Regions from separate parts of the Homo sapiens genome. Here all the other regions are linked to region 2. The links come from fine-mapping of genetic effects on gene expression. A gene starts in region 2. Each other region holds a variant in brackets. All regions are shown on one strand. Distances are between the middles of the regions.

The links. PIP is the estimated chance that this variant, and not a neighbour inherited with it, causes the effect.
Region 1: its variant is fine-mapped to the expression of PLD3 in adrenal gland (GTEx, PIP 0.92).
Region 3: its variant is fine-mapped to the expression of PLD3 in whole blood (TOPMed, PIP above 0.99).

The regions. Positions count from the first base shown.
Region 1 is chr19:41,304,206-41,312,382 of GRCh38, reverse strand. It overlaps HNRNPUL1 (heterogeneous nuclear ribonucleoprotein U like 1), which reads right to left. Exons shown (of 15, transcript NM_007040.6): 13 at 8,122-8,177; 14 at 6,516-6,707; 15 at 4,596-5,934. The coding sequence ends at 5,818. It overlaps CCDC97 (coiled-coil domain containing 97), which reads right to left and starts at 2,211. Exons shown (of 5, transcript NM_052848.3): 1 at 2,027-2,211. The coding sequence starts at 2,072. LOC105372401 (a long non-coding RNA gene) reads left to right here and starts at 2,334. Exons shown (of 2, transcript XR_935968.4): 1 at 2,334-2,445; 2 at 2,558-4,844. RefSeq lists enhancers at 1,876-2,165, 3,439-3,618. The variant T/C (reference allele first, on the strand shown) is at 4,477.
Region 2 is chr19:40,343,755-40,351,931 of GRCh38, reverse strand. It overlaps PLD3 (phospholipase D family member 3), which reads right to left and starts at 3,237. Exons shown (of 13, transcript NM_012268.4): 1 at 3,164-3,237. It overlaps C19orf47 (chromosome 19 open reading frame 47), which reads left to right and starts at 3,535. Exons shown (of 9, transcript NM_001256441.2): 1 at 3,535-3,608. RefSeq lists an enhancer at 3,291-3,580 and a silencer at 3,571-3,660.
Region 3 is chr19:40,275,852-40,284,028 of GRCh38, reverse strand. The region is part of intron 1 of AKT2 (AKT serine/threonine kinase 2); the gene reads left to right. It overlaps MIR641 (microRNA 641), which reads left to right and starts at 1,388; the gene lies at 1,388-1,486. RefSeq lists enhancers at 3,281-3,400, 3,441-3,490. The variant G/A (reference allele first, on the strand shown) is at 5,004.

The DNA.
Region 1 (8,177 bases), 960 kb before region 2:
CCAAGTGTGGTGGCTCACACCTGTAATCCCAGCACTATGGGAGGCTGAGGCAGGAGGATCTCTTGAGGTCAGAAGTTCGAGGCCAGCCTGGCCAACATGGTGAAACCCCATCTCTACTAAAAATATACAAAATTAGACAGGCATAGTGGCGGGCACCTGTGATCCCAGCTACTTGGGAGGCTGAGGCACGGGAATCACTTGAACCTGGGAGGTGGAGGTTGCAGTGAGCTGAGATCATGCCACTGCACTCCAGCCTGGGCAACAGAGTGAGACTCTCTCAAAAAACAAACAAACAAACAAAAACCTGAATGGGGGGACTGAATTGAACAACATGGGGGAAGTCAGTGCAGACCCTAATCAGAGCAGTTTCTTAGGAGAAAAGTCAGACAGTCGTGAGCAGGAGACGAGGAAATGAAGACCAAGTATACATGACTCTCTGAAGGAGACAGATGGGGCCAAGAGACAAATTTTTTTTCTTTTTTTTGAAACAGGGTCTTGCTCTGTTGCTCAGACTGCAATGCAATAGTGCAAACACAGCTCACTGCAGCTTTGACCTCCTGGGCTCAAGTGATCCTCCCGCCTCAGACTCCTGAGTAGCCGGGACCACAGGAATGCACCATCAAACCTGGCTAATTTTTTTTTTTTTGAGACAGAGTTTTGCTCTGTTACCCAGACTGGAGTACAGTGGTGCGATCTCTGCTCACTGCAACCTCCGCCTCCCGGGTTCAAGTGATTCCAGTTGGTGCCTCAGCCTCCCGAGTAGCTGGGATTACAGGCACATACCACGACGCCTGGCTAATATTTGTATTTTTAGTAGAGATGGGGTTTCGCTATGTTGGCTAGGCTGGTCTCCAACTCCTGACCTGAGGTGATCTTCCTGCCTCCGCCTTCCAAAGTGCTGCGATTACAGGTGTAAGCCACCGGGCCCGGCCTTAATTTTTAAATTTTTTGTAGAGATGGGGTCTGGCTATGTTGCCAGTGCTGGTCTCAAACTCCTGGGCTCAAGTCTCACTCTGCTGCAGAGGCTGGAGTGCAGTGGTGTAATAATCTTAGGTCACTGCAATCTCAAAGGATTCGAGTGACACTCCCACCTTAGTCTCCTGAGTAGCTTGTCCTAGCTACTCCCTAGCCACCAGGCCTGGCTAATTTTTAAATGTTTATAGAGATCAGGTTTCTCTCTCTTGCCCAGGCTGGTCTCAAACTCTTGGGCTCAAGCAACTCTCCTGCCTTGGCCTCCCAAAGTGTTGGGATTACAAGCGGGAGCCACTGCACCCGGCCTTAAGACTTTTTTTAGGTTAAATTTTTTATTTTTAGAAAATTTCAAACATACACAAAAGTAGAAAGTACAACGACAATTCTCCCCCTACCTCCATATACCAATCATCTCCATCTGGCTTCCACAATTACCAATTCTTGGCCAGTGGTGTTGGAGCCACGCTTCCAATCACACCTCACCCGACGTCGGATTACTTTGAAGGTTGTGGGAAAGCACAGAAATTGAGTAAGGACTTTGAAAGGAGCCTGGCTGGATTTCGGACTTTGGGGGAAACGGGAGTTACAATGAAATGAAGGAATCGTTAGATTGGGATAAGTTTGCATGAGGCAGGTAGAAGTTTAGCCTGGAAAGGTAGGAGGATTCGTCTAGAGAGCAAGGGAAGGCTCAGCTTGGTACAGGGAAGGAGGTAATTTGAGAAGGGCTGGTCTGAGGCAATGCAGGAATTAGGCCGGGGTAGAGAGGTTTCTGTTAATTTGAGAGTTAGCCTGGTAAGGAAATGAATTAGGGACATGGAAAGGATTGGTCTGGAACTGGGAAGAGGTTAATTTCGGGGGGAAGGAATGGAGGAAAAGAAGGTCAGCCCGCGACAAGGGAGGGAATAATCTGGGCAAAGTAGTGAAGAGGACCGGTAAAGCTGAGGGGGGTGGGTGTCCCCCTAAAACGAGTCCTACTTCGCGTTCCTGGGGGAATCATTTCCTAGAGACACCGCAACCGCACCCACCCGCCGCCTGCGCGTGACCAAGATCTCACCCTTATCGGGTTCCTTCGCCGCCGTCGCCGTCGCCACGGCCTCCATCCTGATTCTCTCGGACTTTTCAACCGCCCGGCGGGCCCCGCACACTAACCTCCGGCCCACGCACGCAAGAGACACTTTCGCCTGAGAATGTTCCGGGTCCGGGTGCACCGCTGCGCCCAGGCACCGAAGTTCCGGGCCTAAGGCAGACGTTGCATTGCGCATGCGTGCCTCTCTCGGGCTCCGCCCTCCGCAGCCAGGAAGGAAAGGGGCTCCCCGGAGAGTGAGAGACCCTTAAACCTCTCCTGTCAGTCAGTAGGAACCAGAATCATTGTTCGTTTTATCACTGCTGTGACTCCAGCTCCCAGCGTGCTTAATTTTGGGATGGATGGCTAAAGGACTTTCCCCCGGAGCCTGGAGCCGTCATACGCTGAGGGTTCGTGCTCTCGTTTAGACCCCCGCTTGTCCTTTTCCTTTCTTAACTCCTTCAGGAATTCAGGAATATTACTAAGCCTTGACTCTTTTTTTTTTTTTTTTTTTTGAGACAGGGTCTCGCTTTGTCGCCTAGACGAATGCAGTGGCGCGATCACAGTTCAAGTAACCTCACATTCCTGTGCTCAAGTGATCCTCCTGCCTCAGCCTTTGGAGTACTTGGGACTACAGGCGCGCACAACCGCGCCCGGCTAATTTTTAAAATTTTTTTGTAGAGCCAGGGGTCCCACTTTGTTGCCCAGGCTAGTCCCCAACTCCTGGCCTCAAGCAATCCTCCCGCTTCAGCCTCTCAAAATGCTGGGATTACGCGCGTGAGCCACCAGCCTGGCTTACTTCCGTCATCATACCCTGTCTCTGGCTGGCATGAGATGGATAGTGAGATAGAACTTCCCATTTTGTGTTCCCAGGACCTGGAGGAAATCTACAGGTGTGAAACAAGACAACTCTGGTCCTTATTTCCCTATGGGATGGGTGGGGCTCTATTTAGGTGTTACCAGCAGAGTAGACAGACATGTCACTCAGTGGCCAGGGCTTTGATGGATCCAGAGGGCTGAGGGAGCTGTCCACCCCAGGCTGGAGGGTCAAGGAAGCCTTCTTTCTGGGAGGGTACCCTCAAGCTAAGACCTGAAGAACGAGTAGGAGCTGGGTTAAGAGGAAGGTAGGGAAGAGTCTTGAGGAGGATGGCACGTACGGACGGTTCTGGTTGCTGCAAGCACTTCACTACGGTCAGGGCATAGGAAAGGAGCTCTAACTTGAAAGCCATGATTGGGCTGTGGAGGTTTTGAGAACCTCATGAATTTTTATGCAAAATTCCATGTACCTCTGTATTCTCCAATGCAGTGGTTCATGGCATCATTTGTGGGTTCCAAAAAGGACTTATGGCTCCTCAGAACAAAATAAACACTGATTTGATATTCAAAGGGGGAGCAGAAAGAGAGGGCGCCAGCGATGTTACCAGGTGCTAGGCCATGCAGGGCCTCATAAGCCATAGTAAGTGGCTTGACCTCCTTTATTCTGAAGGGAGTGGGCATCAAGGGACTGGAGATGAGACGTGTGAGAAAAACTGGCTGAGAACAGAGGAAGAGCTTCCCCATTTGCATTCCCTTGAGGTCTGGAGTTGTGGAAGAAAGCCAAGGAGGTCCCTATTTACCAACCCAGATTCCTAGGCATTACCAGGAGAGGCCAGCAGAGGGCGCTGTAGCCCAGCATATGGACATGAAGGGAAGGGGACTTTCCAGACTAAAGGCCCTGCCACCTCCTCTCTGGCGCATTCTAGGGTCCCTTTTAGCCACCAACCTTGGTTCCTTCTCACGTTCTGATGCCCTACCCGAGATTCTGAGACTAGTCAGTTTCCCTCCCTTGTTTTTGTTGCCCATCTCCCCTTCACAAGGCTCTGAGCTCCCACCAGGGAAGATTGGGGCTGAATTGGCTTCTCCTGTGGCCCAGCATTGTCTCTCACAAGGAGCCAGGAACACAGCATGTATGAGGGAACGAAGACATAAGGTTGCTAAGGAAGGGGAAGATGGGCCATGGGGATGCAATCTGGAGTCTTTTACCCTGGCTCACTCCTCCAGGAAGCCCTCCCTGCACACCACCCCAGGCTCTCACAGCTGACCACTTGGTGCTGGCAGGTCTTTGTTCTCTCTGGAGTGGGAGCTCTGTGAGAACGGGGTCCAGGACTGCCGTGGCCATACTATGTCCCCAGCACTGTCCAGGACAGCTGAAGAACACAGCAGGTGGCTCACACACACTGGCTGAAACATGAAGCTCCTGGAATCCCCATGAGCCCCAAACACAGAACAGGCAGGAACTGTCCTCCGTGCTGCACACAGGCCAGGCCTGAGGCAGGTGGTCTGTGGATGCCCAGTGATGATGCCAAACAAACCAGCCCTGGTCTCTGCCCCATCAGTCCCACCCATCCCTCCACCTAGAGGCCTGTTCCATGTCCTTTACTCAAAAACTCCTGGAGGGATTT[T/C]AGACTGTGAGAGGTAGAGAACAAGAGAAGCACTTTAAAAATGAACTAGTGGATTTTAAACCAGGGACCCTTGTTTAAGCGTGCATTTTTAGCACCAAAATCGGGGCCAGGCACATGAATCCCTCAGTTAAGTTGTTTAATGAATGAGTAAATAATTTCCCTTTAAAGAGGCCCCCACCCCAATTAACGGCCAACTGCAGTAACACTTCAGGGTTTCAACCCTGCTTCCTTCCTGCTAGGAGGTGCCATGTCATTTATTCAAAGAAAACAAAACGAAACCAAACAAAACAGGGCAAACACATTTCTTAATAAGTGCAGTTTGTTAAAATCATGTTAAAACATATGAGTCAAGGGGAAGTAAAAATAAAGGGTATCACTGTAGGAAAAGCTTTTGGGTCTGGCACCTGGGAGACCACTGGAGAGGAGGCAGTGGGAGAAACTTCAAGTTCTGAAGGGAAGGAGCCCCCCAACCTCCCCTTCTTCCCTCTCACCCACTGAATCCCACCAGAAACTACCAAGACGCCCGGAATAAAAGGTTTCAAGTTCAATAGTCACTCTCTCCAAATACAAAAAGCAGTTACAATTCAACTGAACACAGAAGCTTGTGTGCAAAGTTATGGGGAACTGGGGCATCGTATAAAAAGTTGGGTTAAAGATGATTCTGTGGTTTGGTTTTGTTGTGTTTTGTTTTGTGGCTCTTCCTCAGTCACCTGAACTCAGGAAAGAAATGCTTATCTTGATGAAATATCAACAGCCCACCCACAGTAAAAAGACAAATTCTAAAAATTAAAAAAAAGCGCATAATTACCAAAAAAAAGTCACTGCTTCCTCCCCCTCCCCATTTTGCTTTTTAAACTTTTTTTTTTTTAAGTTTTGATTTTTTTTTTAATCCTGAAAAGTAGACAGTAAAACAGCTCCTGGGAGAATTTACAACCAACTGCATGAGGGTCTGGGAAGCTGAGGGGCTGGAGCAGGGTTGGGAGAGTGAACAGGAGGGGATTCTCCCCTCAGTCACTGTAGCCTCACTGTATGATCAAGGGAGGTGGGGATTATTTAGTCAAAAAGGAAGAAGGTAGGAAGAACAGGAGGTGGAAGGCTGGGGAGGTGGGGACAAACAGAAAATAAAAGGTCATTGTTGCCTGTTTGAATCCAGAAAAAAATGCCTGGCCCTATGGAGGGGAAGGAAGCCCCTCAGAGGGGAGGCAGTGGGCTGGAGGGAGGCAGCCCTGGGATGACCCCATCCCCAGCACCACGGGATCTGGCGGGGGCAGAGGAGGGGCCGAGGCAGGCGCTGGTGGAGGAAGCCGGCAGGGGCCTCCGGGAGCCTCTGGGTCACACTGGCTACTGTGTACTTGTGCCACCCTGTGTGTTCCCGGAGTAGCTCCCGTAGTCGTAGTTCCCGTAGTATGGCGGCCACTGGCCCTGGTTCTGATAGTACTGGTTCCACTGCTGGGCATACTGGGGAAAGAAACCAAGAACACCAAGTTGTCCTGCATCCACCACACATTTAGCCTCCCCACCAGCCCCACCCTCACCTAGGGCAGAGACAGCTGCAGTGACAACAGTTGAACACAGGTCCCCTGACAGAGAAATCAAGGCACCTTGGAAAGACCTGACACCACACAGGTAGGCAGTTAGGGACTGAAGCCCAGGTCTCAGCTTGTCAACCCAGTGCCTTTTGGGTATAGCTAGATATCATAGTCAAAAGATTTAGTAACAGGTATGGGGGCCTGGGCACCAACCTGCAGCAGGATTTGGAGCCCCCTGTCTATGGTGCTGAAAGAGGACTCTGAGGCCCCTGGTACTTAGGCCAGCCCTTCCCCTTCACTTGCTAGACTGTGGAGGGGGCTAGGATACCAATTACCTAGCAACCAGTGCAGAAGTGTTGACCAAATGGAATGGCTGCACCAGATGAACGCCAGGCCGAGGCCAGCAGGCTGTCTTTTTAGGGATAAGCAGGGACTTAAGTCTGGGAATACACACCCAGGAGGGGCCCATGGAAGTCTCTCCATCCAGTTGGCCCCCAGTCTGGCACCTACCTGCTGATACTGGTTATAGCTGGGCTGAGGGTAGGTCTGTGCAGTGGGGGGTGGCGGTGGGGTATAGGGGGCCGGGTTGTAACCGCCGTAGCTCCCATAGTTGTAGGCAGGTGGTGGTGGAGGTGGAGGCGGTGGGGCTGTGTAGCCCTGGCTGTAACCTCCCTGGTTGTAGGGTGGCTGGCTGTAACTCGGCTGGAAAGTGGAGGGAAAAAAGCCAAAGCTCTGTGAAATAGAGGAAATCTGCAGATGTGAAATGCTGGGATGGAAAAAGGGCCTTTTTAAGTGGTTGGCCCACAGGGGCCCTTCCCTTGCCTAGTGGACATTGTTTGTGGGCTGAGAAGGAGGAGAGCCAGCTCCATGCCATGGTAGGGCAGGATGAAGGGCAAGCCCCAGGGCTGTGATGTGGACTCTAACCCCAGCTCTGAGACCCCCAGGGAGCAAGGTACACGGCACTTCTTGAAATCTCAGTTTTCTTTTTTATAAAATGAGAATCACAATAGAACAAGAACAACTCCTTTAGCTTGCCCTGGGTATCCAATAAGCTTGTGTGTATAAACCACTGGGTACTCAACAGGTGGTGGTAGTTGTTACTGGAAGATCTGCTGAGAAACAGTAGTGGCAATTGACTAAGTGCTTCCCAAGTACAGGTTGGATCATTACATCATATAATCTCCATATAGAACCTAGGGGTAGGTCCCACTAGCCCCATTTTAAAGAGAAAGAAACTGAGGCTCAAGATGAAATTTCTGGGCCAAGGAAAAAGGACTTGACCCCAGGTCTGCCTAGTCCCAGAGCTATAGTGCCACCCATTCCTCACAACAAACCTTGGAAGGGACTTCTACTAACACCTTTATGAGGAAAATGAGGCCCAGAGACGGGAAGCTATTTGTCCAAGCTCACAGAAACAGGATGTTGTGGGGCTGGGGGTTTGGATCTGTGCCTGCCCAACTCTTGTTCTAAGAAATATTCTAGTTAGCTGGGCCTGGGAACCATCCATTGGTCTCCTGGCAGCTGATTCCAGGCCCGGCATGAGGAAAGTGCTTGGGAAATGGCTGTGCGATAACTGAAAACCTCTCTGGTTTACAGGAGCCTGTGCATACCAGAGCCAGGGCACTGGCTTTCCAAGAATGGGAACTGAGCCTGGAGCTGCTCAGGATTGAAGCTCTCTGTGCAGAGGGCAAGTCCTCAGCAACCTTAGTGCCCTGGTTATTATGTCCAAAAGACAAAGAGGTCAGCCAGCCTGGGCAAGGGGTGACTCCAGTCAAGTGCTTTCTTGGGGATTTAGTGAGGTTAGTGACACTAGCCAAGAATAATGTACTTGCTGGAGGGATCAGTGCTTACAGCCCATCCCCTTGAGGGTGGTGGGAGAAGAGCAGGTTCTGGGAAGGTCTACATTTACTCCTGGGTTTGGAGGGGATCTGGGAATGTGTAGGGTCCATCTGAGTCAAGATCACGGCCAGGGAGAAAGAAGGGCAGGCTAGAGGTTAGAGTGAAGACCAGTAGCTGGGGCATGTGTTGATTTCCCCAGATCCGCCTCCACCTAACTTGCTCAGGTTCAAAAGCACACGTGCGATCACTACATACAAACACACACTCATTCTCTCACCTGTGGAGGGCTGTAGCTGCTGACGGTGGGGGTGCTGGTATTGGCGCTTGAGCCAG
Region 2 (8,177 bases):
GACTGAAGAAGATTCTGGCTCTCTTTCCAATAAGGCTGCCTCTCACTAGTCGATCCTGGGTAGAAGTTCTGGAGCTGCCACAGCTCAGGGTGATGGCTTCATGTCACACTGGACCGCATCCCTCCTCGGCTCCACATCCTCCTGTGGCACCCACCTCACTGGGAGTAAAAGCCAGCCTTCTGCATGGCTCACAAGGCCTTCCACGATGTGCCCCATCACCCCTCCAATGTCGTCTCTTGCCCCTCTCCTCTCTCACTGACCTCCTTGCTATTCCTTAAATATTCCAAGCTTGCTCCTACCGCAAGACTTTTGCTTTTGCTGTTCTCTTTGCCCAGCATGCTGTTCCCCCAGAGGGCCATGTCACTCTTTCTTTCTCTCTCTCTTTTTTTGAGACAGAATCTCGCTGTCGCCCAGGCTGGAGTGCAATGGCGCAATCTCAGTTCACTGCAACCTCCGCCTCCCTGGTTCAAGCGATTCTCCTGCCTCAGCCTCCTGAATAGCTGGGATTACAGGTGTCTGCCACTATGCCTGCCTAATTTTTTGTAATTTTAGTAGAGACGAGGTTTCACCATGTTAGTCAGGCTGGTCTCGAACTCCTGACCTCAGGTGATCTGCCAGCCTTGGCCTCCCAAAGTGCTGGGATTATAGGCATGAGCCACTACGCCTGGCCGTTTTTTTGTTTTGTTTTGTTTTTTTGTTTTGAGACAGGGTCTCCGTCTGTTGCCCAGGCTGGAGTGTATTGGCAAAATCATGGCTCACTGCAGCCTCGAACTCCCAGGCTCAAGCGATCCCCCCACCTCTCAGCCTCCCAAGTAGCTGGGACCACAGGCGCACACCACCATACCTGGCTAATTTTTGTAGAGATGGGGTTTCGCTATGTTGCCCAGGCTGATCTCAAACTCCTGAGCTCCAGCGATCCACCTTCCTCAGCCTCCCAAAGTGCTGTGATCACAGGCGTGAGCCACCGTGCCCAGCCCTACTCTCTCTTCTCCTTCAAGTATTTGTTTCAAATGTCACCTTCTCAGAAAGCTTTCCCTGACCACCCTATTTAAAACTATAACCTTGACCCCACATTCCCCATGCCCCTTCTAATACATCCAATAATCTACTTACCTATTTACCCATTGCCTCTTACCCCCACTAGAGTGTAGTACACAGTCCATAAGGCCAGATTTTTTTTTTTTTTTTGAGATGGGGTCTCACTCTGTCACCCAGGCTGGAGTGCAGTGGTGCGATCTCAACTCACTGCAGCCTCCGCCTCCTGGGTTCAAGCAATCCTCTCACCTCAGCCTCCCGAGTTGCTCAGATTTTAGGGGCGCGCCACCATGCCTGGCTAATTTTTGCATTTTTAGTAGAGATGGGGCTTCACCATGTTGTCCAGGCTGGTCTCAAACTCCTGGTCTCAGGTGATCCACCCACTTCACCTCCCAAAGTGCTTGGATTACAGGTGTGAGCCATTGCGCCAGGCCGAGATATTTTTGTCTGTATTGTTCATTGAGGTATCCCCAGTGTCTAGCAGTGTTGGGCACATATATAGTACATGCTTAAGAATTATGTGCAGAATGATTAATTTGTGTTTTCATTCCCATATTGCAGATGCAGTAACTGAGGCGCTGGGAGGTTAAGTTAGTTGCCCAAGATCATGCAGTTTTTTTTTTTTTTTTTTTTTTTGAGACGGAGTCTCGCTCTTGTTGCCCAGGCTACAGTGCAATGGCACGATCTAGGCTCACTGCAACCTCCGCCTCTCAGATTCGAACGATTCTCCTGTCTCAGCCTCCCGAGTAGCTGGGATTACAGGCATGTGCCACCATGCCTGGCTAATTTTGTATTTTTAATAGAGATGGGGTTTCTCCATGTTGGTCAGGCTGGTCTCGAACTTCCGACCTGAGGTGATCCGCCCGCCTCGGCCTCCCAAAGTGCTGGGATTACAGGCGTGAGCCACCGCGCCTGGCCTATTATTATTATTTTTTTTTGAGACGGAGTCTCGCTCTTGTTGCCCAGGCTGGAGTGCAATGGCGCGATCTCGGCTCACTGCAACCTCCACCTCCCCGGTTCAAGCCATTCTCCTGCCTCAGCCTCCCGAGTAGCTGGGATTATAGGCATGCACCACCACGCCCGGCTAATTTTGTATTTTTAGTAGAGACGGGGTTTCTCCATGTTGATCAGGCTGGTCTCGAACTCCCGACATCAGGTGATCCGCCCACCTTGGCCTCCTAAAGTGCTGGGATTACAGGCATGAGCCACCGCACCCGGCCGAGGGTGACATGGTTAATAACAATATTAGCCAAAAACACCATGTCAAGCTGAGCCTACCACAAGAATAAACTCACAGAATCGTCACACTCAGCCCTGATGTGGATGTCCCCGTGTGCATTTTGCAGATGAAGCTGGGATTGGAAAGGTGCCATAAGGCAGTCAAGGTATCCAGAGGTGTAGTGGTGGGGCTGGGATTCTGACACACCCCAGGTAATGGGCTGCAGTACCCCGTATGTTATGTGAGATGTGACACGGGGAAATGACGAAGACACGGAGGGAAGAAAAATAACTGTAAGGCTGGGTGGCTCCTTATGGGGAAAACTGGAAGCATGAGGAGTGGATGGTGACTGGTCAGAGGAACAGTGATGCCAAGGGAGGGACAAAGACACAAGGGGTAATGATGACGTAAGAGTTGCATTAGCGCGATTTAAGAAGAGCGATGGGGACAGTAGCCATGCGAAGGTGACTTGGGGGTATGATGAGGGTTTAAAGAGAAATGAGGATTTTATAAAGGAGAAATGGCAACAAAAGCAGGATGCAGGTAACATATGGCGATGACGAATTTAAAGGGAGCGATTACGACCTATGGTGGCAAAGAGGGCTTACAGGGAACGAAAGCGAGTTAAGGGCGTTGATGACAACAAGAGGAGTTGTGAGGATTTAAAGAGGGTGATGGCGACAGAAGGAGTTGTGAGGATTTAAGTGGGATGAGACAGAAGGAGAGGAATGGTGACATAAAGAGACCGAGGACGACATAAATTATAGCGTGGAAGACAACGCTATAATTATATATATTATATTCCATATATTATATTCCATATAATATATATTATATTCCATGCATTATAGCGTGGAAGACAACACGAGGAGGGTAGCCGAGGCGCCGCGCCCCCAGATCGCACAGTACCTGCACTCCACGTCTCCCACTCCGAGACCCAGCCCCACACGCACCTTCCAGGCTGTATCCCCGCCTGACGGCCCCTCCTAGCCGCGCGCAGGCGCACTACGGCTAGACTGCAGGCCGGCGGGGGCCAGGCATGCGCCTTTCTCATTGGCCGCGCCGCTTGCTAGCTTCGGGCGGAGGGGAGCGCCGGGCCGACGGTGGGCGGTCACGTGACGGTTACGACTGCACTCTCGCTGGTGTCGGTGGGCGGTCACGTGATGGTTATGGCCGCACTCTCGCTGGTGGCGGCCTGTTGGGGTAGAGCGGCCGCGGACGAGTCAGTTCAGCTTCCGGCGGTGAGAGGATGCTTCCGGGGCGGGCAGCCCGGGCCGGGGGAGGAGTGTCTGACAGTTGGCGCCGCCGGGAGGGAGGGCGGGCGGCGCGAGTGGGCGCGGGCCCGGTGGGCCAGGTGAGGCGCGGGCCGGGGGTGGTGGGACTGGGCCGGTTGCGGTAGGGACGGGTGGCGTCCGGGTGTCTGGACTCAGTTCGGGCTCCGTTGTACGGCTTCGGACTTACGATTTGTTTCTTTGAGCCTCAGTTTCCTCCCCTGTGGAATGGGGGTTAGAATCCGACTGTATCACCGGCTTTATAAATGGGAGTGAGAAGTCAGGTCGTGTACGTTGGATGCCTTAGCTCAGCGCCTCCGCATAACGCTCACTTCGTTACTATACTATTATTATTAGTATTGATGTTTGAGCGCTTAGTATGAAAAATTGTTGGGTTTGGAAGCCGTCGAATTTTGGTTCAAGTCCCGCTCCACTGTGCGGCAGTGGGGCCTGTGTCTTCGCTTCCTTGAACCCCGTTTTTTCTCATCTGTACAATGAGAGCAGATAGTCCCAATATCATAGGGTCGTCTTGAGGATTCTGATGAAATCTGTGTGTGTAAAGATTTTAAGCAGAGGGGCTGGCACAGTGAGAGCTCGTGGATTGGGACTATAATGATAATGATTCTGAGAGTCATTGGTGTAGCTGGGAATTCCAGGGAAGCTGGGGGAGAAAGCTCAGAGACAGCAATAGGAAAAACTTAGAATTGGAGCCGGGGAAATCGACATCCTGTCACTTACTATTTGACCAATTTTGCTGAGTCCTGAAGTACTAGTTTTTTTCTTTTTCTTGATAATGACTAGTGCATTTTTTTCCCCAGTAAGTTAATTTGAGAAGGCAAATTTGCATTGCTGTCTTCTTCTTTTTTTTTTCTTTGAGACGGAGTTTCGCTCTTGTTGCCCAGGCTGGAGTGCAATGGTGCAATTTCGTCTCACCGCAACCTCCGCTTCCTGGGTTCAAGGGATTCTCCTGCCTCAACCTTCCGAGTAGCTGGGATTACAGGCATGCGCCACCACGCCCGGCTAATTTTTTTTGTATTTTAGTAGAGACGGGGTTTCTGCATGTTGGTCAGGCTGGTCTCGAACTTCTGACTTCAGGTGATCTGCCCGCCTCTGCCTCCCAAAGTGCTGGGATTACAGGTGTGAGCCACCGTGCCCGGCGCATTGCTGTCTTCAATGGAAAACTAGCATTGCTGGCCATGAGAGGAAGGAAAAGTTCAGGTAAAATACAATGGAAACTGAACAGCCCATTACATTGTACACTGAAATGGAAAGATAATTGAAAAGGAATACTACGTATTCCCTTTGAATAGGGATACTGTTCAGAACCTGTACTGTGTGATTCCCTGTTGTCAGATCCCATGGACCCCCATTAAGTTGTCCTTATACTTGTTCCCAGCTCACACTTTGTATAAAACTAGCATTAAGTCAGTGACTGTCCCACTGTTTCCCTAGCTTACTGAAGATTTGTTTTATTTGATGCACACTTAACATCGCACTTAACCACCTGCCGTGCATCTTTGTTCTAAGGACTCTGTTTATTAACTCGTTTAATCCTTGTAACACCTTTAAGAATGGGTCCTTGGCTGGGCGTGGTGGCTCACGCCTGTAATCCTAGCACTTTGGGAGGCCGAGACGGGCGGATCACGAGGTCAGGAGATAGAGACCATCCTGGCTAACACGGTGAAACCCCGTCTCTACTAAAACTACAGAAAATTAGCCGGGCATGGTGGTGGGGGCCTGTAATCCCAGCTACTTGGGAGGCTGAGGCAGGATAATTGCTTGAACCTGGGAGGCAGAGGTTGCAGTGAGACGAGATCACGCCACTGCACTCCAGCCTGGGCGACAGAGTGGGACTTCATCTCAAAAAAAAAAAAGGGTCCTCTTTTTTTTTTTTTAAGATGGTGTTTTTTTATTTTTATTATTTATTTATTTATTTATTTATTTATTTATTTATTTATTTATTTGAGACAAGGTCTCGCTCTGTTGCCCAGGCTGGAGTGCAGTGGTGCGATCTTGGATCACTGCAACCTCTGCCTCCCGGGCTTAAGCAATTCTCCTGCCTCAGCCTCCTGAGTAGCTAGGATTACAGGTGCCCACCACCACGCCTGGCTAATTTTTGTATTTTTAGTAGAGAGGGGTTTCACTATGTTGGCCAGGCTGGTCTTGAATTCCTGACCTCAGGTTATCCACCTGCCTCAGCCTCCCAAGGTGCTGGCCAAGAATTGGTAATCTTACTTTTTTTTTTTTTTTTGAGATGGAGTCTCACTCTGTTGCCCAGGCTGGAGTGTAGTGGTACAGTTTCGGCTCACTGCAACCTCTGCCTCCTGGGTTCAAGTGATTCTCCTGCCTCAGCCTCCCGAGTAGCTGGGATTACAGGTGCCTGCCACCATGCCCAGCTAATTTTTTGTATTTTTAGTAGAGGCGGAGTTTCGCCATGTTGGCCAGGCTGGTCTCAAACTCCTGACCTTGTGATCCACTGCCTTGGCCTCCCAAAGCGTTGGGATTACAGGCATGAGCCACTGCGCCCAGCCACCTTTCCTTTTTTTTTTTTTTTTTTTGAGACTGAGTCTTGCTCTGTTGCCCAGGCTGGAGTGAAGTGGCGTAATCTTGGCTCACTGCAACCTCTCCCCCCCCCGCCCCGGGTTGAAGCGATTCTCCCACCTTAGCCTACTGAGTAGCTTGGATTACAGGCATACACCACCATGCCTGGCTAATTTTTGTATTTTTAGTAGAGATGGGGTTTCACCATATTGGCCAGGCTGGTCTCGAACTCCTGACCTCAGGTGATCCACCCGCCTCAGCCTCCCAAAGTGCTGTGATTACAGGCGTGAGCCACCACGCCCAGTTTTTTTTTTTTTTTTTTTTTTTTTAACAGTGACAGGGTCTCGCTATATTGCCCAGGCTGGCCTCAAAATCCTGGGCTCCAGAGATCCTCCTGCTTCGGCCTCCCAAAGTGCTGGGACTACAGGTGTGAGTTACTGTACCCGGCCTTACCATTCTTATTGTGCAGTTGAGGGAAGTGAGGTCAGAAAGGTTAAGCTACTTGTCCAGAGTCAGGATTAGGACGTGGTAAAATTGGGATTTGGATACAGGTCTTCTAAGGGCTTAGCACATGGAGTCTGGTATGTGGTAATCCCTTGAGTTTTGGGAGCTGCTGTCTTTAAAATCACTATTATAATTTTCACTATTCGGAAAGTCAGTGCTGGAGATGGGCTTTTAAGATTGTGGAGAGAGGAAATTGAATTCAGTAGGGTCTGTAGCACTTGGGGGAGAATACCAGTACTTAAAGGATTCTGGTTAGCATTAACTGAGACATTGAAAAACAGACCATAGTACCTGGCTGGTAGTAATCCCTCAATCAGCATGAACCATAGCCATTGGACTGCGTGGGGTCCAAGTCCTGCTGCTTCCTTTACTTGCTATATGATCTTGAACTCCTAGGCTCAAGGGATCCTCCTGACCCTAAAGTGCTGGGATGACAGGCCTGAGCCACTGTGCCCAGCCTTTTGCTGTGTGATCTTGGACCTGCCATTCTCATCTGTAACTTTCCGAGGGTGGTTGTGAGGAGCGACTGAGATGTGTATATGCTCAGTTCCTGGTACATAGTAAGCACTCAATGGGACCTATTCCCTGGACGTCAGAATCAGGAAGAACTTGTTTTTGAATCCCAGTAAGGTCAGTTGCTAGATGTGCCATTTGACAAACGACTGCACCTCAATGAGTCGGGGTTTTTCATCGATAAAAACAGGGCTAATAATAGTCCTCACTTGCTGAGCTGTTGGGATGCATCTGCATGATGCTTGGCGCTGGTCCTGATGCATAGTTAGTGCTTGGTTTGTGAGATGTTCTGTCTGACTTACTGAGACCTCTCCGTGCTGTTCTTTGAGAGATGCATGTTGTACTGTATTTTATTTCATTATTATTTTTTGAGACAGAGTCTTGCTCTGTCACTCAGGCTAGAGTGCAGTGGTGTGATCTCGGCCCACTGCAGCCTCTGCCTCCCGGGTTCAAGCGATTCTCCTGCCTCAGCCTGCCGAGTAGCTGGGATTACAGGCGCCCACCACCATGCCCGACTAATTTTTGTATTTTTAGTAGAGATGGGGTTTCACCATGTTGGCCAGGCTGGTCTCAAACTCCTGACCTCAGGTGATCCACCTGCCTCGACCTCCCAAAGTGCTGGGATTACAGGCACGAGCCACTGCTCCTGGCCTGTATTGTCTTTGGCCAGTGGTAAAATTCAGGAGGGAAATTGGATCTAAGAGTGTTGAGTACAGGACAGAGTGATGTCTGTGGTCATACTCATCAATAAGAGATTGAGCAGAAGGCCAGGTGCCTGTAATCCCAGCACTTTGGGAAACTGATGTGGGCAGATCACTTGAGGTCAGGAGTTCGAGACTAGCCTGGCCAACATGGTGAAACCCCATCTGTACTAAAAATACAAAAATTAGCTGGGTGTGGTGGCGAGTGCCTGTGGTCCCAGCTGCTCGGGAGGCTGAGGCAGGAGAACCGCTTGAACCCAGGAGGCGAAGGTTGCAGTGAGCCGAGATCGCGCCACTGCACTCCAGCCTGGGCGACAGAGCAAGACTTTGTCTCAAAAAAAAAAAAAAAAAATTGAGCAGAAGCCAGAGAAGGGCAAGATTAACCCTAGTGAG
Region 3 (8,177 bases), 68 kb after region 2:
GCTGAACTTGGTTGGCAGTGGATGTGAAGGGTCCAGGAACCAACGCAGACCACTACATGCTCCTCTGTCGCTGGCCACGAAGCTGTTTGTGTCTCCCAGTTACCAGCTCGGTCACACATCATGTTTACACTCCCCACCAAGGCAGTAACAGTTGGCCTTGCAGTGAGGCCGGGAGCTGTTTTCCCAGCTGTTCCTCTTTGCATAGGCCAAGGGGACTTGGAGTGGGGGTGCCCCTGGCCCAGCCTGGCCCAGGGAGGAAGGCTGCTCTGAAGGGCTTGGGACAGTCAGATCCCCCATGGATCTGGTGTCTTATTGTGGTCTGTGGGCTGGTGCTGGGAGCAGCCAGCCCCAGAGGTCTGTGGCCAGTGTCCCTGCTCCCTAGGCCAGATCATGACCTTGGCTTGCCCTGTAGCCTTTGCTCTGGGTCTGGAGTTCCCAGAGGACTGGCTGCAGTCCCTGATTGACCCAGCAGACCTGGGCTGGTGATGTGGTCAGAGGGGGCAGATGGTTGCCCCTAGTCCGCAGCAGTGACTTCCAAGCTGACTGGCTTCCGTGGCTCGTGGTTCCTGGAGAGAAAGGTCCCACAGTCTGTGAGGCAGCGGCGACTCTGTAGAATCTTTCTCCACTAGGGGTTTGTTCCTCTGGTCCTCTCCTGCCAGCTTTTAGAGGGTTTGCCTGATGGGGCTAACAGTGGCAGTGAAAACAGTAATCATGAAATTGATGGCTGACAGTAACTGAGTGCATTCTGTGGGCCACACACTGTTTGGAATGCTTCATATAGATAAACTTGCTGAATACTTGAATTCTAGAGCGGTAGGCGCTGTTGTTATGCTCTCCCTTTTAGATGAGAAAACAGCATCTCAGAGAGGCAGATCATTTCCAGAGCTAGTGGATGCCCAGTGTTTATAGCATTCACCCCATGCCAGGCGTGTGACAGGGCTTTTGTACATGTGATCTCACTTAAGTCTCAAAACATACCTGTGGTTAGGCCTATTTTATGGAGAGCTACGAGCTAGTTAGAAGTGTGATACCATTTTACAGATGAGGAATCATTTCACTCACTGTGAAGTGCAAAGATTTCCCAGAGGTCTCATAGCTGAAGTGGGAGAGGTGTGATGTGAGCCCTTGGCCAACCTTGGCCTCAGATCGTCTTGTCAAGGAGAAACTGGAGGAGTGGCTTTTGTCTGTGAGCATATACTCTGCCCAGCCCTGTGCTTTGGGCTTTATATGGTATTTGTGTCCTTTTTTGCAGAGTCCGAAATTGAAGTTCAGAGGAAGAATTGCCTTCCACCGCATCTTATCAGACCCTATGGGTGCCAGGGTAGGATTTGAACCCAGGTCACTGAGCCCCTAGTGCCATGCATTCCTTGCTCACCAGGTTCCAGGCTGGGTGAAAGGAAGGAAAGACATAGGATAGAGTCACCTCTGTCCTCTGTCCTCTACCTATAGAGGTGACTGTCCTATGTCTTTCCTTCCTCTTACCCCTGAGCCTCAGGCTGCCCTGAGCATCTCTGCCTACAGCCAGTCCAGCATTTCTTGGTCCCTCCTCAGAGTGGAGGCAAGGCATCCTTTAACCCTGGGCAGGTGTGTGCTGGGAGAAGAAGACAGCAAGAGAGCCATGCAGGGGGTGACACAGCTACCAGGGACCTGCGTTAGCTAGCAGCAGGACGGTGAAGTCGGTTCTAGCTCTGCGACCTTGGACCACACTGTTCACTCCCATACAGTGGTCTCAGAAGGACGTCCACCTTGGGCTGTTGTGAGGATTAAATGAATTAATCCACGAGAAGCTCCTAGAATGGTGCCTGGTACTGTGTAAGTCTTGGTTGGCAGTCATGATTATGTTATGGAACGGAGGCATCCAGCCTCCCCCACCCCCTACTTTTGGTCCCCTCGAGCATTCCGGGATCCAGCTCCCCAGCCTGGCCCAGCTAGGATCCAGAACTTCAATGTTCTGGTTTCCAGCCTCTGTAAAGAGGTGTATGGAAGCGAGTGAGAGCACAGGGTTCAAATCCAGCCGTGCCACTCCATGGCTGTGTGACCTTGAGCAGGCTCCCCAACCCTTGTGAGCTCATTTCATCATCGGTGCCATGGGGATGATGATAATTCCCACCTGATAGGATTATTGTGAAGGCTGAGTGGATTAATTTGTGGGAAGCATTCATAACTGTTCTGGCATACAATAAGCCTACCGGAAATGTCTCCTCACTAAGAACAGTGCCCGACACATGGTGAGCTGTTGGTCTGTCTTAGCAATTGTAATTCTTAGTATTTCTGCCGGGACTTTGAAGGCCTTTGCCAGTTCACAGAACCGTGTCAGAGAGCACTAGGAGGAGATCAGGGCTGAAATTAGCATCTCAGTTTTACAGATGCAGAAACAGAGGTCGGGGGAGACATGCAATCAAGTCAGAACTGACAAGGGCAGCTCCCGGGCCCACTCCTCTTCCACGCAGTGGCTTTGCAGCCCTGAGCGCCTCCAAGGTAGACACACTGGAGTCTTTTCAGAGGTCAGGCTCTGTGCTTGTTTTTTTTTTTCTTTTGAGACAGGGCCTCCCTCTGTCACCCAGGCTGGAGTGCAGTGGTGTGATCACAGCTCACTGCAGGCTTGACCTCCTAGGCTTTAGTGATCCTTCCACCTCATCCTCTTGAGTAGCTGGGACTACAGGTGCATGCCACCATGCCTAGCTAATTTTTAAATTTTTTGTGGAAACGGGAGTCTCGCTATGTTGCTCAGGCTAGTCTTGAACTCCTGGGCTCAAGTGATCCTCCTGCCTCAGTCTCCTGAGTAGCTGGGACCGTAGGTGCATGCCACTGCCCCTGGTTCCCAGCCCACCACAGCTCACAGCTCTGGGAGTGGCAGGAAGGCTGGGCCTGGGCAGGGGGAGCAGCAGAAGTGCCTGCAGGGGTTGGCAGGGGCTGTGCTGCACTGGCCTGTGGGCCTGGGTGAGAGGTGAGGATGGATCCTAAGGGTATTGTGGAGCCGAGGAAAAGGTTTCACTCATCCGCCACCATTTACTGAACACCTCGTATGTGCCAGCGTTGCATCAGTACTGGGAATACAGCAGTGTACTTGCCAAAGTCCCTATCCTTGTGGGGCTAAGCAAGACCAACCCGAAACAGGTTAATAAGCAAGGAGCCGGTTAGAGGGGGAGGAGCTAGGCAGCGAATTCAAATCAGGTGACAGACTGGGCACTTCTTTAGATGCATGCGGCTGTGGGGAGGGCCTCTGAGCTGATCCCAGTTTGGCAAGGTGAGGCAGTCATGTGGGATGGGAGGAGAAGGAACAGCCCTCCAGGTGGAGGGAACCACAGTGCAAAGGTCTGAAGGGAGGACAGAGCTTGGTGAGGTGCAGGGACAAGCCTCACGGAGGCCTGTGTGGCTTGGCAGAGCGAGGGAGCAGGGAGGAGATGAGTCCTGGGGCTGCGGGGCAGGCAGGGCCCTTTCACTGGGAGCCTTGTGGACTGTCTGTGAAGGAGTTTGGAATTTCAGCAGGAACAGCCTGGTCAGATTCAGGGTGTTAGCAGGTGACCCAGGAGCCGGTCACAGGCTCCTGCCTGGGGGCGTGGGTAGATTTGACTGAGCGGAGCAGGGCGTTTCACAGGCCTCCCACTTCCCCTCCAGTAGCATCACTGCCTTACAGCCAGCAAAGGCCTGAGGGTTGCCTCCCTCCTGTGGTTTTCACACCGTGTTCTCCAGAGCCCGTGGCTGTTACTTTTAGGGAAAGAGGAGGGGAGGCTCATTGGGCTGATTTCTCTGCCCATTCCTCCCCAACCCAACCAGCCGGACTAATACTGAATAGCAACGCAGGGCAGCAGTCACACCTGATACAGACAGCACCCGCTGACCCTGCGTCCACGCTGCCGTGGGCCTGTAGGCCTGCGCCATTCCCAGTGCTCCTCTGGAATTGGAAAGACCAGGGCTTGTGACTGGCGCCCAGCACCCAGGTCTCTGGTTGGGCTCAGGTGTGGTTGATATTACGAAGGCAAAATAAATGAGGGCCAGGTTGAGAGTGTGGGCATGTTTCTCCACTATAGCTGGGTGATCAGGGAGGACCTCCCTGAGGAGGTGACGTGTGGGTAGGGACTGGAGTGCTGTGAGGGAGCCATGGGAGGATCTGGGTGAAGACCCATTAGACCCAGGAGGAATCTTCTCTGATTCCCGCTTTACAAGTGGTGAGAACTGAAGCCTGGAGAGCCTCTGTAGCTTGTGCTGAGTCCCCCAACCAGGAAGTGTTGGGGACAGGCTATGAATCTGGGCTTCCAGAGATTCCCCCACCACAGCTCAGTAGCCCCTGGTGAGTGTGACTTCTGATCCCACCCATGGGCTCACCCCTAAGGCTTGGTGCGGGAGCAGGCGCTCTGGCTTTTTTTTTTTTTTTTGAGGTGTGTTCCAGGGTATCTTCCTAGAAGGAGCAGAACCCCTCAGAACAAACCACTAGGGTCTCCAGAAGGCCCCCGGGATGGGTTGGGATGGAAAGGAGTGTCTTTCAGACTTGAGCTCCAAGCCCCTGGAGGACCCAGGGTCACCCCTCCCCGGGCCTCTCTTCAGCTTCCCAGAGCTCTCAGCGGAAGGCCCTCAACCACAGGCCTCCGGGCCGCACGGTGGGGTGGTTCCATGGCAGGCTCTTCTGGACAGCCAGCCAAGCAGCGAGAGGCCCAGCTGGGGGAGACAGCCTGGGAGCAGGACCAGGAGGGAGGGAGTGAGTGTGGGAGGGGCGCTGGGTGGGAGCTCAGCCTGGCCCCCTTGGGGCAGGACCCACTGCCAACTCGGCACCCACAGCAGGGCCCAGGTGCTCTGACTGTGCCGAGCGAGGGACAGCAAGCCGGGTCGGCCAAGAGGAGACTGCATGTCAGAGGTCCCAGCAGGAGTTTCTTCAGCCCAGCCGTCCTGCTGGAGAAGCTCGTTCGCAGATGTTGTTTCTAAGGGTGAGGCCAGAAACCCAAGTCTTCCTCGGTTTGCCACTTTGTGGGCCCTTTCCGAATGGGCTGGGGCAGTTGCCGCTCCCC[G/A]GTTCTCTTCTCCAGCCTGGCTTCAAGTTCTTCATGGTCTGGTGGGTTTTTGGTGTACACTTACCCAGCTGGGGCTGCTGAGTGACCTGGTCCCGGGGGTAGCTGACGTGGGTGAGAACCCTGCTCTTGGCACCCCTCTCGGTGGCTGTGGAGCTCTGGGGCCTTATTTCTTCTCCCTAAGGTGCATTTTGCTCAGCTGTAAACGGGAACCTTCCTGCTGAGTGGGGCGGTGGGGAGGATGCACGGAGCTGCTGCGTTGGAAAGCACAGGCCTCCTGAGGAGGCGGCGGGATGAATTTGGGCTGATGCTACTCCTGGTGATTGCCAGACAGGACTGAGGGCACCTGAGAGCACAGAAGGGGCTCTGCAGGGCAGTGGGCACAGGCTCGTTGTTGGTCCTTGGGAGAGAGTGGTAGGGCCTGTTAGCTGATGGGAGGGCTCCAGACAGGAATGTGAATCACTCCCACCACTGTACTCCTGCCCAACCAGACGCTGCATATTAGCTCTACAAACCTGCACAGCAGCCTGGGAGGTGGGCAGTGTTAGCACTCCCATCTCGTAGATAGGAAACTGAGGCCCAGGAAGCCACATAGAATATTGGGGTCATTCTCGTGAGTAGTTCGCCTCTCAGTGCTGGGCACTGCTGCAGAGCTTAAGGTGTCTGCTCTCACTCATCCTCACCACAGCCTGGCAGCTCGCTGTCCCGATCGTCCCCGTTGTACAGGGGAGGAAACGGGCATAGAGAGGTTATTGGATTTGCTGGAAGTCAGTAATAGGCATGATGGTTGAACCCTGCTCTGTCGGCGAAGCTGCCTTTTGAAGACAGCCTCATCTTCTTGCCCTGCCTGCTATGACTGGAGTTGTCACTGTTGTCATCATGATTTCTTTTCTGCTTTCTCTTCTCCTAGACAGAGCTGGCACAAAGTAGGCCTCAGTAATCCAGAAATGACTCCATTCCATGCCTGCTTGGGATGTGGGGTGTGGCTGCTTCTCTCCACCCCCAATACCATGACCTTGGCCCCTCCCAAGGGGGGCCCAGGGGGAAGAGATGAGGATGGGAGGCACCCCCTCCCCACTGCCCTAGGGGCCTGATTGCTGAACAGCCTCAGGAGCCAGCCTTTGGCTGTTCTTGGTCATTTGTGTGTTCCATCTGTCTCCAAATATTGATTGAATCACTTCTATGTGCCACGTGTAGTTCTGGATGCGATCGGAGGTGGCAGAGAGGTTGCATTGGCCTGTGAGTGCTTGGTGTGGCTGAAGGAGGGAACAGAGATCTAGCTGGACTGGGTGGGAGAGGGGCTTGGGAAGGCTGCTGAGGAGCCCCTGTGATGTGAGAGCCCGAGGAAGTGGGCTGGACGGGGTGCAGCCAGGTAAAGGCCGCAAGGAAGGCGATATCTGGATGTGCTGGTGGAACAGCAGGCCCATGTAGCTGGAGCCGGGGGAGTGGGTGAGGGGGAGAGAGCAGGGTGGCAGGGCTCAGGGCCTGGGCTATGATGGGGATCCAGGGCTTTATCCCCAAAGAGAAGGGACACAGGTGGGTGGGGAGGGACCTGTGTGGGAGAGAGCTGGCTGGATTCAGGTGGCAGCCAGGGATGGAGAAAGCAGACCATATTCTGCTTTGGAGACAGGGCGCCCTAGAGCCCAGCTTCTCAAACTGGTGTCCGAAGGCCTTGGCGGGTGGGAGGAGGTGTCTGCAGGGCATTGACTCTTTTTAGCTGTGTGTTTTCATTTAGATGATATTTTCAAAAAGTTAGTAGGGGCATGTTGGAAATTATTGGGATGATTCCTTTAGAACCAAGTAGTGACAGCAGTAACATTAGCTGCCACTGCATGGCTCTGACAGGCTCAGGACGGCCCCTGATGTCAGAGTCCTTTATGTAATTGCCACCTATTTTTCAAGCACTGGCCCTGTCCCCAGCTGTGTGTGAAGCCATCTCATTGGGTCCCCAGGACAACCCATGGTTATCAGAAAAATCATCTTTTTAAATTTTTCATTATTTTTTTGAGACAGGGTCTGGCTCTGTCACCCAGGCTGGAATGCAGTGGCACCATCATGGCTGATTGCAGCCTTGACCTCACTGGCTCAAGTGGTCCTCCCACCTCAGCCTTCTGAGTAGCTGGGACTACAGGCATGCACCATCATACCTGGCTAATTTTTTTAAAACAATTTTCAGTAGAGATGGGAGTCTCCCTATTTTGCTCAGGCTGATCTTGAACTTTTGGGCTCCAGTGATCCACATCCCTCAGCCTCCCAAAGTGCTGGGATTACAGGCGTGAATCACTGCACCTGGCCTGCAAAAATTATCTTTTGAGATAACATAAACATGTGCTTGGGCAGATTGGTGTTAAGATTCCATTCTACAGGCTGGGCACGGTGGTTCACACCTGTAATCCCAGCACTTTGGGAGGCCGAGGAGGGTGGATCACGAGGTCAGGAGTTCAGTACCAGCCTGGCCAAGATGGTGAAACCCTGTCTGTACTAAAAATACAAAAATTAGCCAGGTGTGGTGGTGGGTGCCTATAATCCTAGCTATTCGGGAGGTTGAGACAGGAGAATTGCTTGAACCTGGGAAGCAGAGGTTGCAGTGAGCCAAGATCGCACTACTGCACTCCAGCCTGGCGACAGAGTGAGACTCTGTCTCAAAAAAAAAAAAAAAAAAAAAAAAAAAAAAAAAAAAAAAGATTCCATTTTACAGATGCGGAAGCTGAGGTTCAGAGAAGTGACCTGTGTAGCCTGGAAGTGGTAGAGTCAGGATTTGAGTTGACTAGAGGTGTGAGTTTGGGCCTGAGTCCTGCTCCAATTCCCCAGGTAAGCTGCGTTGGGGTGCGGGAGAGATGGGGTATAGCATGGGAGCTTCCAGCCGCACTGGGATGATCTGGCTCCTCTTGGGCCTGTGAGAGTCACATCCCTGCCTCCTGCCTTTAAGCTCCCGGTGCTTAATTAGCAGGAATTCTATAGAATTGCACTCCAGAATGGTAGCTACTAGCCATGTATGGACTTTTTTTTTTTTTTTTGAGACGGAGTCTTGCTCTGTCACCCAGGCTGGAGTGCAGTGGTGTGATCTTGTCTCACTACAACCGCCGCCTCCCGGGTTCAAGCGATTCTCTGCCTCAGCCTCCCGAGTAGCTGGGATTACAGGCGCCTACCACCACGCCTGGCTAATTTTTGTATTTT